3 linked regions of the Homo sapiens genome follow. The protein of the gene in region 3 interacts with the protein of the main gene of each other region in a pairwise test. Each region holds a gene or a part of one and is shown on either strand. Other genes may lie near its edges.

What was found.
Region 1: the proteins of TNXB (region 3) and CEACAM6 interact in binary tests that used the Homo sapiens proteins (3 or more experiments, as listed by UniProt).
Region 2: the proteins of TNXB (region 3) and POU6F2 interact in binary tests that used the Homo sapiens proteins (3 or more experiments, as listed by UniProt).

The regions. Positions count from the first base shown.
Region 1 is NC_000019.10:41,753,956-41,757,709, reverse strand, and holds the start of CEACAM6 (cell adhesion molecule CEACAM6 preproprotein), read right to left. Parts: upstream 2,181-3,754; 5' UTR 2,072-2,180; coding exon 2,008-2,071; intron 1,111-2,007; coding exon 751-1,110; exon of another isoform or gene 1-750. UniProt on the Homo sapiens protein: Cell surface glycoprotein that plays a role in cell adhesion and tumor progression. Intercellular adhesion occurs in a calcium- and fibronectin-independent manner.
Region 2 is NC_000007.14:39,337,843-39,341,596, reverse strand, and holds part of POU6F2 (POU domain, class 6, transcription factor 2), read right to left. Parts: exon of another isoform or gene 2,477-3,754; intron 1,956-2,476; coding exon 1,582-1,955; intron 1-1,581. UniProt on the Homo sapiens protein: Probable transcription factor likely to be involved in early steps in the differentiation of amacrine and ganglion cells. Recognizes and binds to the DNA sequence 5'-ATGCAAAT-3'. Isoform 1 does not bind DNA.
Region 3 is NC_000006.12:32,040,653-32,043,492, forward strand, and holds the end of TNXB (tenascin-X isoform 3 precursor), read right to left. Parts: coding exon 2,785-2,840; intron 2,667-2,784; coding exon 2,523-2,666; intron 2,430-2,522; coding exon 2,299-2,429; intron 2,180-2,298; coding exon 2,047-2,179; intron 1,955-2,046; coding exon 1,803-1,954; intron 1,711-1,802; coding exon 1,614-1,710; intron 1,522-1,613; coding exon 1,360-1,521; intron 1,283-1,359; coding exon 1,119-1,282; intron 993-1,118; exon of another isoform or gene 799-992; coding exon 697-798; 3' UTR 501-696; downstream 1-500. Other genes in the region: CYP21A2 (steroid 21-hydroxylase), read left to right, coding at 16-119, 217-482. UniProt on the Homo sapiens protein: Appears to mediate interactions between cells and the extracellular matrix. Substrate-adhesion molecule that appears to inhibit cell migration. Accelerates collagen fibril formation. May play a role in supporting the growth of epithelial tumors.

The sequences.
Region 1 (3,754 bases), on a different chromosome or scaffold from region 3:
CTGATCCCTGGTGGACATGGAGCTGCCAGGAGCATCCTCTCTTCTCTGTTCCTCCCCTTGGGGACTCTGAACTTCCCAGGGAGTAACCTGTGTCCCCCAGGGCAGTGGGCTCATGCACTAGTAATTTTTTCCATCTGTCCTTTCCATGCTGAGCCTCAAGTGAAGGAGGAGGCCCTATCCTCAGCTAGATGAGGCTCTGGGTGCTCGGACCTGGCTGGTGACCAACTCCAGGAGTCATGGCCCTTGGATAGCTCACATCCTTGCTCCCAGCCAGCCCTGCCCAAGAGGCCACCACACAGCCCTGGCACAGACTCCCCAGGATCACCTGGAATCAGGAACCAGGGACAGGGCTTTGTACAGGGGCTCAGTTCAGGGAAGAGTTGAGCTTCTCTCTGAGGGGTCCCTAGGGGGACCCCTCAGGCCAGGCCCTGATCCAGTTCTCCAGGGTCTTTCTCAGGGTCAGGTCCATGGGGAGACCATGGGGTGCTTGTCTGACACTGACCTCGCCCTGCTGAGTCCCCCCATCAGACTGTCCTTCCTCTGCAGCGAGTGTCTGCAGGGTCTGGATCCAGGAAAGGAATTCTGATCTGTGGAAGTTTGTCTCCCCCGTGTGTGTCCTGCACTAAATGTCCAAACCCTGATACAGGATGTAATGCAGAGAGGGCCACAGGCACAACCCAGGCCTGACAATCCCGTATGTGGGAAGTAGAACTGACCCCCAACACCCAGAGGTCATGTGGAAATACTCACGGTATACATGGAACTGTCCGGTTGCTTCTTCATTCACAAGATCTGACTTTATGACTTGTAGGGTATAGAATCCTGTGTCATTCTGGGTGACGTTCTGGATCAGCAGGGATGCATTGGGGTATATTGTCTCTCGACCACTGTATGCGGGCCCTGGGGTAGCTTGTTGAGTTCCTATTACATATCCTACAATTAGACTGTTGCCATCCACTCTTTCGCCTTTGTACCAGCTGTAACCAATACGATTCTGGGGCAGGTTGTGGGCGAGTAGAAGAACCTCCTTCCCCTCTGCGACATTGAACGGCGTGGATTCAATAGTGAGCTTGGCAGTGGTGGGTGGGTTCCAGAAGGTTAGAAGTGAGGCTAGGAGAGAGGAGAGAGCATCGGTCAATATTGGGACCTATGCATTAGGGTGGAAAAACAGGGCCCTGGGTCCTGAGCAGGTCTCTTCACCCCTCCACGTTGGAGCGTGTGTGTGTGTGTGTGTGTGTGTGTGTGTGTGTGTGTGTCCTACTGAGTCAAAGTCAGCAGTGTGACACCCCCATTCCTTCAGCACCTTTGACCTTGGCATTTCCCTGTGTGGAATGCTCTTCCCCAGGGGTCTGCATGGCTCCCTCCCCACTGGCCTCAGGTCCTGCTCACATCAGGGCATTCTTGGGAGATCCCTTCCCTGACACCCCCTCTACAGACCCTGGGTCTTTTCTTTCTGACCTTTCCCTGCTCTGTTCCTTCCAGGGCTCTTGTCAACACCTGACCTCACATTCTATATCTCTTTGTGTGTGTGTTTTCCTCTTCATGACAGCATAAGCTCTGTGATGACTGAGACTTGTCTGATGCTTGTTGTATGCCATTGACTAAAATTGATTGCAAATGCTTGTGGATGAGTTAATGAGTGTATCTGGTGGTTATTTTTCAACTTCTGATTGGTGAGTAAGGGCAGCATTTAGTTTCCTTGTTATATTTTTATTTGGAGTGTCATCCTAATGCAGTTCTGATTTCTATCATTTTTCTTTTTTTTCAAATGGTAATGACAAATGATGATTAACTTGGAAAACATGATCAATTGATTTTCCTCCCTTTTTATCAATCCCAGTTTAGTGTGACTTTCCTGTTGTGACCCCTGTCCCTCTCTGGTGTTCTGTTTCCTCAGGCTTCAACAAAAGCCCTCTGTCTCCTCTCAGAGCCTTGTCCTCCCCAGGAGACCCTAGCCAGTCTCTGTGCTCCCTCCTCCCATCCACTCCGAGGGAGTCCTCCCCTCACCTGTGAGCAGGACCTCCTTCCAGGGGACATGCAATCTGCAGGGAGGGGCTGAGGGGGGTCCCATGGTCTCTGCTGTCTTCTCTGTCCACCTCTTTGTAGAGGAGCTTGAGCTCCAGGAATGCTCTGGTCAGGGCTGCTGTGACTGTTGGCCCTGCTGTCCTTCCTCCTTCTGTGCTGAGCCTCCTCTCAGGGATAGAAGCATTTCCCAGGGTCACGTGGGTCATGGGTGCGGTCTCTGTTCAGGAATCCTCTATCCCCTCCCCTCTCATTTCTGTCTCTTTTGTCCCTCCTCCTCTTCCCTTTCTGTTTATATTCAGTTCCCCAGAAGATGCTCTGAGAAGCAAGCTTGTTTGGACCCCTGTTCCATAACAGGACGACCCGCCCTCCCCAGCACGGACCTCTGCTGTGTCTGGGCCTTGGGTCTGTCAGCACCACACAGAGAGTCCCTGGGGTCCTCAAACCTGGTGTTATTTTCTCTGTGACAGAGAAACCCCTCTATGTGTGCAGGATGTTCCTAGTGTTCTCACACGTCTGGGAAGGTTGGATTTACCTCCAGCAAGGAGGTCACAGAGATGTTTGGGGTCCTAGGAGTGGACACATCCAGGGCTAAAGCCCGGGTCTAAGATTCTGAATTGTTCTTTCTGCAGTGTTATGTGACTCTAATTTCCTGGGAGTAACTGAGAATGAAGCTGCATGGTGCTGTAGTATTATGTCATCCAGACCCCAGACATTTCTAGACCAACTTTATGATTTTCTCTACAGCTTTACCACCTTTATTATTATTTACTTCATACTTTTTTTGTAATTAAATTTAGTTTACAAAACATCCTTGTCTTAGCAGGGCTTGGTGGCTCACACCTGTGATCTCAGCTACTCAAGAGGTTGAGGTGAGAGGATGGCTTGAGGCCAGGAACTGAAGACAAAATATTTTTGTCTTATGCAATATTGTCCATGAAATCAGAGATTTGATGTGTGCTTAATTTTTTTTCCTGTCATGCGTTAAAATAAACACAGTTAAACTTAAAAGTTTATTTATGTTTCACCTAAAATCAGTTTTGGGAAATGCTTATATAGTGGCATAAGCATGGAATTTATATCCAGATATAGACCTGGGCTCAGCTAATGGTTCTGTCACTTAACTATGTTGACTTGGACAAGTCACTTGGCTTCTATGATCCTTGATTCCCTGATTTGTAAAAGGAGGATGGTAAAATCCTCCTTGCAGAGTTGTTGGGAATATGTGGGAGCCCAGTGTCCAGGCGGGTGTTGAGTACGTGATGGTTATCATTGTGTTTATTGCTGTGGAATTCTGGTTATTTTCCAAAGAGAGTGTCTATGCTGGAATATTGGGCTTGTGGCTTTCTGCTAACATGCATGTGTGAAGAAGTTACTTTTGCTTGTTAGGACTTGTGCATCTGTCATTATTTTTGTTTTCCAGTTCTACTACCTATTTTCTCTGTGATGTTGGTCAAGTTGTCTAACTTTTCTGTGCCTCATTTACCTAATTTGTGAAATGTGGGTAACAGTACACTAGTGTGGGTGTGTTATTTCCCAGCTCCGACCACTAGAGGGCATAGAAGCACCGGCACCTACTAGCAATGGGCATATGGGTGCCCATGGTCTGTAAACATCATTTTCCCATGAAAGGAACCAGGGGTCCCTGGAGAAATAGCTGATCCAGGGCTGGGCAAGAAAGCACAAGAGGAGCCTTGTGGGGCCAGAAGTAAACATTCTGTGGGGCCAGAAG
Region 2 (3,754 bases), on a different chromosome or scaffold from region 3:
TACATCTAATGTAAGTGTTCTTAAAAAGCATTAAATTAATTTTTTGGAATAATAAAGTTGAATCCCAAATGCTGCCAACATTAAGGTTGCTGTAATCATGCCTTCTGTAAATTTGATGACACCTGCTCTTTCAGTAGGTGTCAAGTGGACAATGAAGACGTTTTTGGACCATGTTCATTTTAGTCCTAGGTCAAAGGTGTTACGTTGTCTCACCATCGTAAGAATTGTATAAATACATCTTGAAACTCCACTCATGAAAATGTTCAAATTGAAAGTAGCCCTGGCCCAAGAGCCCAGAAAAACACAATGACTCATCTCTCCCAAATGTGTTCATTTCTAGGAATGCTTTGGGCCACACCACTGAGAATCCAAATTGGAAGAGACAAAGCTATGGGACAACAAACTAAGTTCTAAAATACCAAGTCTCTAATCCACCTGCCTTTCTGTCCGTGTACCAACCTGTCTTTATTTTGTATACTTTTCTATTTAGGAGCCAAGGATACCATCGCTACTGTCATTCTCAGGCTGGGGAGAGCCGGACTGACTGAGGTTTATACCCACCACTATGGCAAGGGGATGAGATGGCACTTGAAACAGGTCCACAGGCTGCTCACTCTGTTTAACTTTGTCACAGTACTACAAATACACGAGATTGTCTGAAATCTCACAGGGAAAAATGTCATTGTGCAAGTCAAAGAATGGATGGCTTGGCTGAGTTATTAATTTCTGGATCTGATATGATGACATCACAGTCATTATGTTTTGAAGCTAATTTATTTTAAAGACACCTAAGTTAAAAATGGTTTTCTGAAGTTTAAAGTCATATATATATATATATATATATGAATGCACCTATCCATTCCTTCTCAATAGGTAGGTTATAGATGAGCTCTCATGGTTAGCCTGAAATATCTATTTATGAAGCTCTCAGCCTCACAGTAATAAAGTAAACCTATAGAAGTTTTATTCCTTTATAAAGATGCATATTGGTTGAGGCTCTTGGCATGAATTTAGAGTACTTGTTAGTCTGTGGAGTAATGGTTGGAATCTGGGACATAAGACTGGGGCTAAATTTCTTTGCCCTCCTAACCCCAGAGAGTCTTTAGAAAAATAGAAACAAAAGAGCACAAAGTACTTAAGGTGAGACACTGTTGTATTCATAATATAGAGAAATAACCACCATGCCTCATGGACAGTAGATGCAGTTCTCCATGGGGCTACAAAACTGTGCTAGTAATAATTTTAATTGGATGCTATCTTTGCTGCCTTCAAAAAGTATCATAAAATGGAATTATTACAGGCTCCAAATGCACTTATAGTGCTGGCCTCTCACAGAAGGAAACAGATAACATTTATCCTTTGGAGGGCAACAGAAATGGGCTTCTATTTGTTTCGTTTACATGCATCCCCAGTTGCCTTCTAGTTGCTTCTTCTTCCCTATGTCTAAGAGATCAATTTGAATTAGATGCTGCAGAACTGGATGCTAAGTTTTGTGTGGTCCCTCTGCCTTTGGGGATGGCACCACCCCATGGAAAGGTCCTTGGTGCTCCTAGGGGCAGACGGGAAGCACGGGGAGCATACCTGTAGAGGATTGGGTGGCGTGAGCGGTGAAGGCAGGCCATGTCCTGGAGACTGACTAGGTTTCTGCGGGGGGCTGGAGCTCTGCTGGGTTGGAGATGGTTGGTTCTGGTTCTGGGAGTGGGAGTGGGGTTGGTGCTGCTGGGGCTGAGGCGCCTGTTGCAGCTGAGATGTAGGAGCTGGCGGCTGCTGAGAGGCGGGTGGTGGCTGCTGGGGTGGGGTGGGCTGCAGCGGCTGCTGCTGGGACTGCGAGGGCGCCTGTGGGGCTGGTTGCGGGTGCTGGTTGGTTGACGGGGGAGGCTGCTGCTGCTGCTGCTGCTGCTGCTGCTGGAGCTGGAGCTGGAGCTGCTGGAGCTGGGAGTTCAGGGATGAGGTAGCTACAAGGAGAGAAAGCGAATGTGGAGTGAGATAACATGACAAAGTGTCTTGCTGGGTCTTGACAGCCTGTCCAGTGCAAGTGGAGAAGGGTTTCCTTTAGAAAATTCTTGTCCTTGCCCCCTGAAGCTCTTTGGTATTTAAGAGTGTTGTGAGGCACTGGGAGAACAAAGGTCACTTCTGGGGAAAGTTTAGAATTTCTGGAGGACCAGCATATAACACATCAGGCATTACTTTAAAAGGTGGTGAACAATGCAAGCCAAAGGTGTGTGGTAGGAATGGAGATTGTTTTTTAACTACTTTCTCTCTCTCTTCCTTTCCATACTGCATGGGAAATACATTCATGCTTCAAGATTTCATTTAGATTGTTGAAGTCCAACCAGTTTAGTTGTTTTGGTAAGTGTTTGACTGGAGTTAAGAACAAAAAACCAATTGTTTGCAATTGCCTTTACATCCATCATCAATATCATTAATGGTATCATTTTCACTTGCTACTTCAGATCTCCACCCAGTTGCTTAGATGTCTTAGTGTCAAATTTCTAACTGTTTTTTTTTTTTTTTAAAAATTCAAAAGCAGTACATGCTTCTCCATTTTGCAGGGTCAAAAGCCTGAGTCTGAATTTTTTGCCTGCTGATTAAAGAGACAGAACCCCTAAACTGGAGGGATGATAGCAGGTGACTGAACCAAACAGTGTGGTGATTAGACATCAGCACCTGAGGACAGGACAGCACCTAAGGACTGAGGGAATGAAATCATCTTTTAAGATCTTGTTATGAGAAAGGTAGAGTTGGTGGGAGAAAGTGTCTTAGCACTGAGCACGCAAAATTTGTTCTCACATGCCCATGTAGCACTGAACAATTTCTGCAGAAGGAAGCTGGTTAGTTTGACCTAAGAATGGTCTAGAGAAATTTACGGCTAAAAACCAAGTTCACTTTCTTTTTTGCCTAAATCTCAATCTAAAAGCTTTCTAACAAGCCCATGAACAAATAAACATATAAGGATCAATGTCAAACCCACAGGCCTTAGAGGAAAGTGTAGCTGTATTGGTGAAATGACGATGCAACCATTTCCAGGGGTATCAAATACCAATTCTGTGATCTCACATACCATGTAGGGCTTCCAACTTGGTCCAGTTGGGATAGCAAGTCCTCACTGAGCCACTGAACTGCTCTAGGTCTATGCAAGCAGTCCAGTGTGTGGCCTGCCTTGCGTGTAGAGCCAGGGTGTTCTGGGGCTTGTGATGTAATCGTAGAGATAGAGATGGCATGAGGGAGGCCTGGAAAGTACCCCGGCATCATCCCGTTTATTAGACCTTTTAGAGAAAGGCCTGCTTTTGCCATTTCCCCCTTTCTTCTAGTTTACAAAATCACATTTTATCAAAGATGTGGGAGCCCTGCTCTATTCTGACCTCCCTAGATCTTCTGCAGTCTGGAGGATCCTGGGGCAGGGGAGCCTGATCTCTTCTTCTGGTGGAGTTCCAGACTTCAGGGACTTGATTGCATCTGGCCTCCTGCCTGATTCAAATCGAACCTAACCTGATGTCTTTCAGGTGGGGGCACATATGTTAATGCTTATTTCCATGGTTGACTTAAATACCATACTGCTTCATTTTGGTTAGAAAAGCATTTATCTAAATCAGCATTTAGAAACAGGAAAGTCTGGGAATATTGGCAGATAGATGTTGGCAGACGGGTAGGTACAGCAGACCCTAACCTACTAATGAGCCTTGGTCCCAAATATGTCTCCCTTCCTCCATATCCGTAAGTTCATATTGCTTGGGTATTTGTTTTCCATAACAGC
Region 3 (2,840 bases):
TCCAGCCCCCTTCAGCATCTCCGGCTACGACATCCCTGAGGGCACAGTCATCATTCCGAACCTCCAAGGCGCCCACCTGGATGAGACGGTCTGGGAGAGGCCACATGAGTTCTGGCCTGGTATGTGGGGGGCCGGGGGCCTGCCGTGAAAATGTGGTGGAGGCTGGTCCCCGCTGCCGCTGAACGCCTCCCCACCCACCTGTCCACCCGCCCGCAGATCGCTTCCTGGAGCCAGGCAAGAACTCCAGAGCTCTGGCCTTCGGCTGCGGTGCCCGCGTGTGCCTGGGCGAGCCGCTGGCGCGCCTGGAGCTCTTCGTGGTGCTGACCCGACTGCTGCAGGCCTTCACGCTGCTGCCCTCCGGGGACGCCCTGCCCTCCCTGCAGCCCCTGCCCCACTGCAGTGTCATCCTCAAGATGCAGCCTTTCCAAGTGCGGCTGCAGCCCCGGGGGATGGGGGCCCACAGCCCGGGCCAGAGCCAGTGATGGGGCAGGACCGATGCCAGCCGGGTACCTCAGTTTCTCCTTTATTGCTCCCGTACGAACCCCTCCCCTCCCCCCTGTAAACACAGTGCTGCGAGATCGCTGGCAGAGAAGGCTTCCTCCAGCGGCTGGGTGGTGAAGGACCCTGGCTCTTCTCTCGGGGCGACCCCTCAGTGCTCGGCAGTCATACTGGGGTGCGAGAGAGGTGGGCAGCAGCTCAGCCTCCCCCCGCTGGGGAGCGAAAGTTTCTTGGTCTCAGCTTCATTTCCGTGAAGGGCACCGAGAACTCGAAGCCCTTCCAGTGGTACCAGCTCACTCCCTGGGAAAGGGGTTGTCAAGAGAGAGTCAAAGCCGGATGTCCCATCTGCTCTTCCCGTTCCCCTTAAGGAGGTAGCTCCCAGCACTCAACCAACCTCCCCGCAGAGCTCCCTTCCTGACCCTCCGCTGCAGAGGATTGAGGCTTAATTCTGAGCTGGCCCTTTCCAGCCAATAAATCAACTCCAGCTCCCTCTGCGAGGCTGGCATGATTGTTCCATTTCACCCAGCCACTCAGTCCCTTGCCTGTTACACTGTGGGGCTGAAACCTAGGCAGGCCGAGCCCCAGCCACCCCAGCTCTGAGCCGCCTCCCCACCCCTCACCTGATGGTCCACTGTGCTCCCGTAGAGCCCGTTGAGGTTGGCGTAGTGGCAGTTCCTGTACCACCAGGCCCCTCGGTAGGAGACAGCGCAGGAGATGAGCAAGCTGTTGGGGTCCCGATCACGGGCAGAGAAGACACTGCCGCTGTGGTAGCTCATGGAGTCCCCTGGGCAGGGTGGAGGAAGGAGCCATGAGGGCCTCCCCTCCCAGCCTCACCCTCCCAGCCTCACAGCCTCTGCTTACCTGCGGTGCCGTGGTAGCCCTCCAAGTGGAGGCGGTAGTACTCCGCAGCCGAGTCTACGTGGAAGGAGTCGTACTGGGCGAACACAGCCTCGTCCCCAGCCCGCAGGTCCACGCGCATGGAGTAGTCACCTGCCTGTGTCAGGCTGTGCAGGGCCTCATTGCCTGGGGGTGGGATACGTGCCCTCATCAGGGTCCTGGTGTCCACAGGGCCCCCATCCCCATCCGTAGTTCCCCAGTCCCTGTGAGGCACTGACCCAGCCAGAACTCTCCAGAGATGTTCCCAAAACCATGGGCATAGTCCTCCCAGTCCCTCCAGAAGTCTGTCTGTCCATCCATGCGGCGCTGGAACACCTGGGAAGCAAGTGGGGGCACCATCAGCCTCTGGCTCCCGGGGCAACAGACCCTGCCCTGCACAGACCCCTGGGCTTCCCAATGCCACCCACCAGCCAGCCGCCCCCATCAGTCTCCATGTCGCAAAACACGTTCAGGGGCCGCTCGCGGTTGCCGTTGAGGAAGATGGTGCTGGTCCTGGAGGCACCGGCTCCGTTCTGCATCTCCTCCCCGCAGTCCCTGGGGAAGGGGATCCGCAGCCCACCTGGGAGAGGAGAGCAGGGGCCAGTCCTTTTCCAAGCCTTAGGCCCTGGCTGCCCACCCAGCCCCCGGCCCCGGGCCCGTGCGTCCAGGTACCCGTGGTGAAAGAGGTGGACACGGGCGGCAGGAGGCTCTGGCCCCACATGGCCTGGAGCCGTGCATTGTAGGAGGTGGAGGGAAAGAGGCCAAGGAGCTGGTGAGATGTGATCCCTCCTGGGAGCAGGATCTCCTGTGGGACAGACAAGGGGGGGTCAGGGGAGAGGGAGGTGGAGACCCTCCGGGAGGGCCAGAGGCAGCACCTCCTGGAATCACCCAGGGAGGGGAGTTGGGTCAGTGGGGCCGGGGCACCTGGTTCTGTCCACCAGGGGTGTGGAAGCTGAGCAGGTAGCCTGCGGGCCGGACTGGGGGCTCAGTCCAAGTGAGCAGGGCGGTGCGGGGGGTCACTTCCTTGGCCTCCAAGTCCCGAGGGGCCTCTAGCCCTAGGAGGGAAAGCAGGAAGAGGAGATGGGGATGAGGCCCAACCTGGCTCCCTCTACCTCCTCTCCCTGTCCCACACACCCCACAGACCCTACCTGTGGTGAAGGTGATGCTGGCTGGGGAAGTGAGGTTGGGGCCCCGCAGGCCACGCACTGTGGCGGTGTAGTTGGTGTGGAGGACAAGGTCATGCAGGGGGTAGTCCACCGCGCTGCCTGGGGTCTCCGCCTGCAGAGGCGGGGCTGGGAGTGTAGAGAGGGGCATCAAGGCCTGCCCCCTCCATCCTCGGCCAGAGTCCAGCCTCCCCCCTGCAATCCCCACCCTGAACAAGTCCCCTCCAGAGGCCTCAGGCCTGCTCACCCCCAGGGGCTGTGACCTGGACGTCATAGGTGTCCACAGGATTCTGGGGGGGCTTC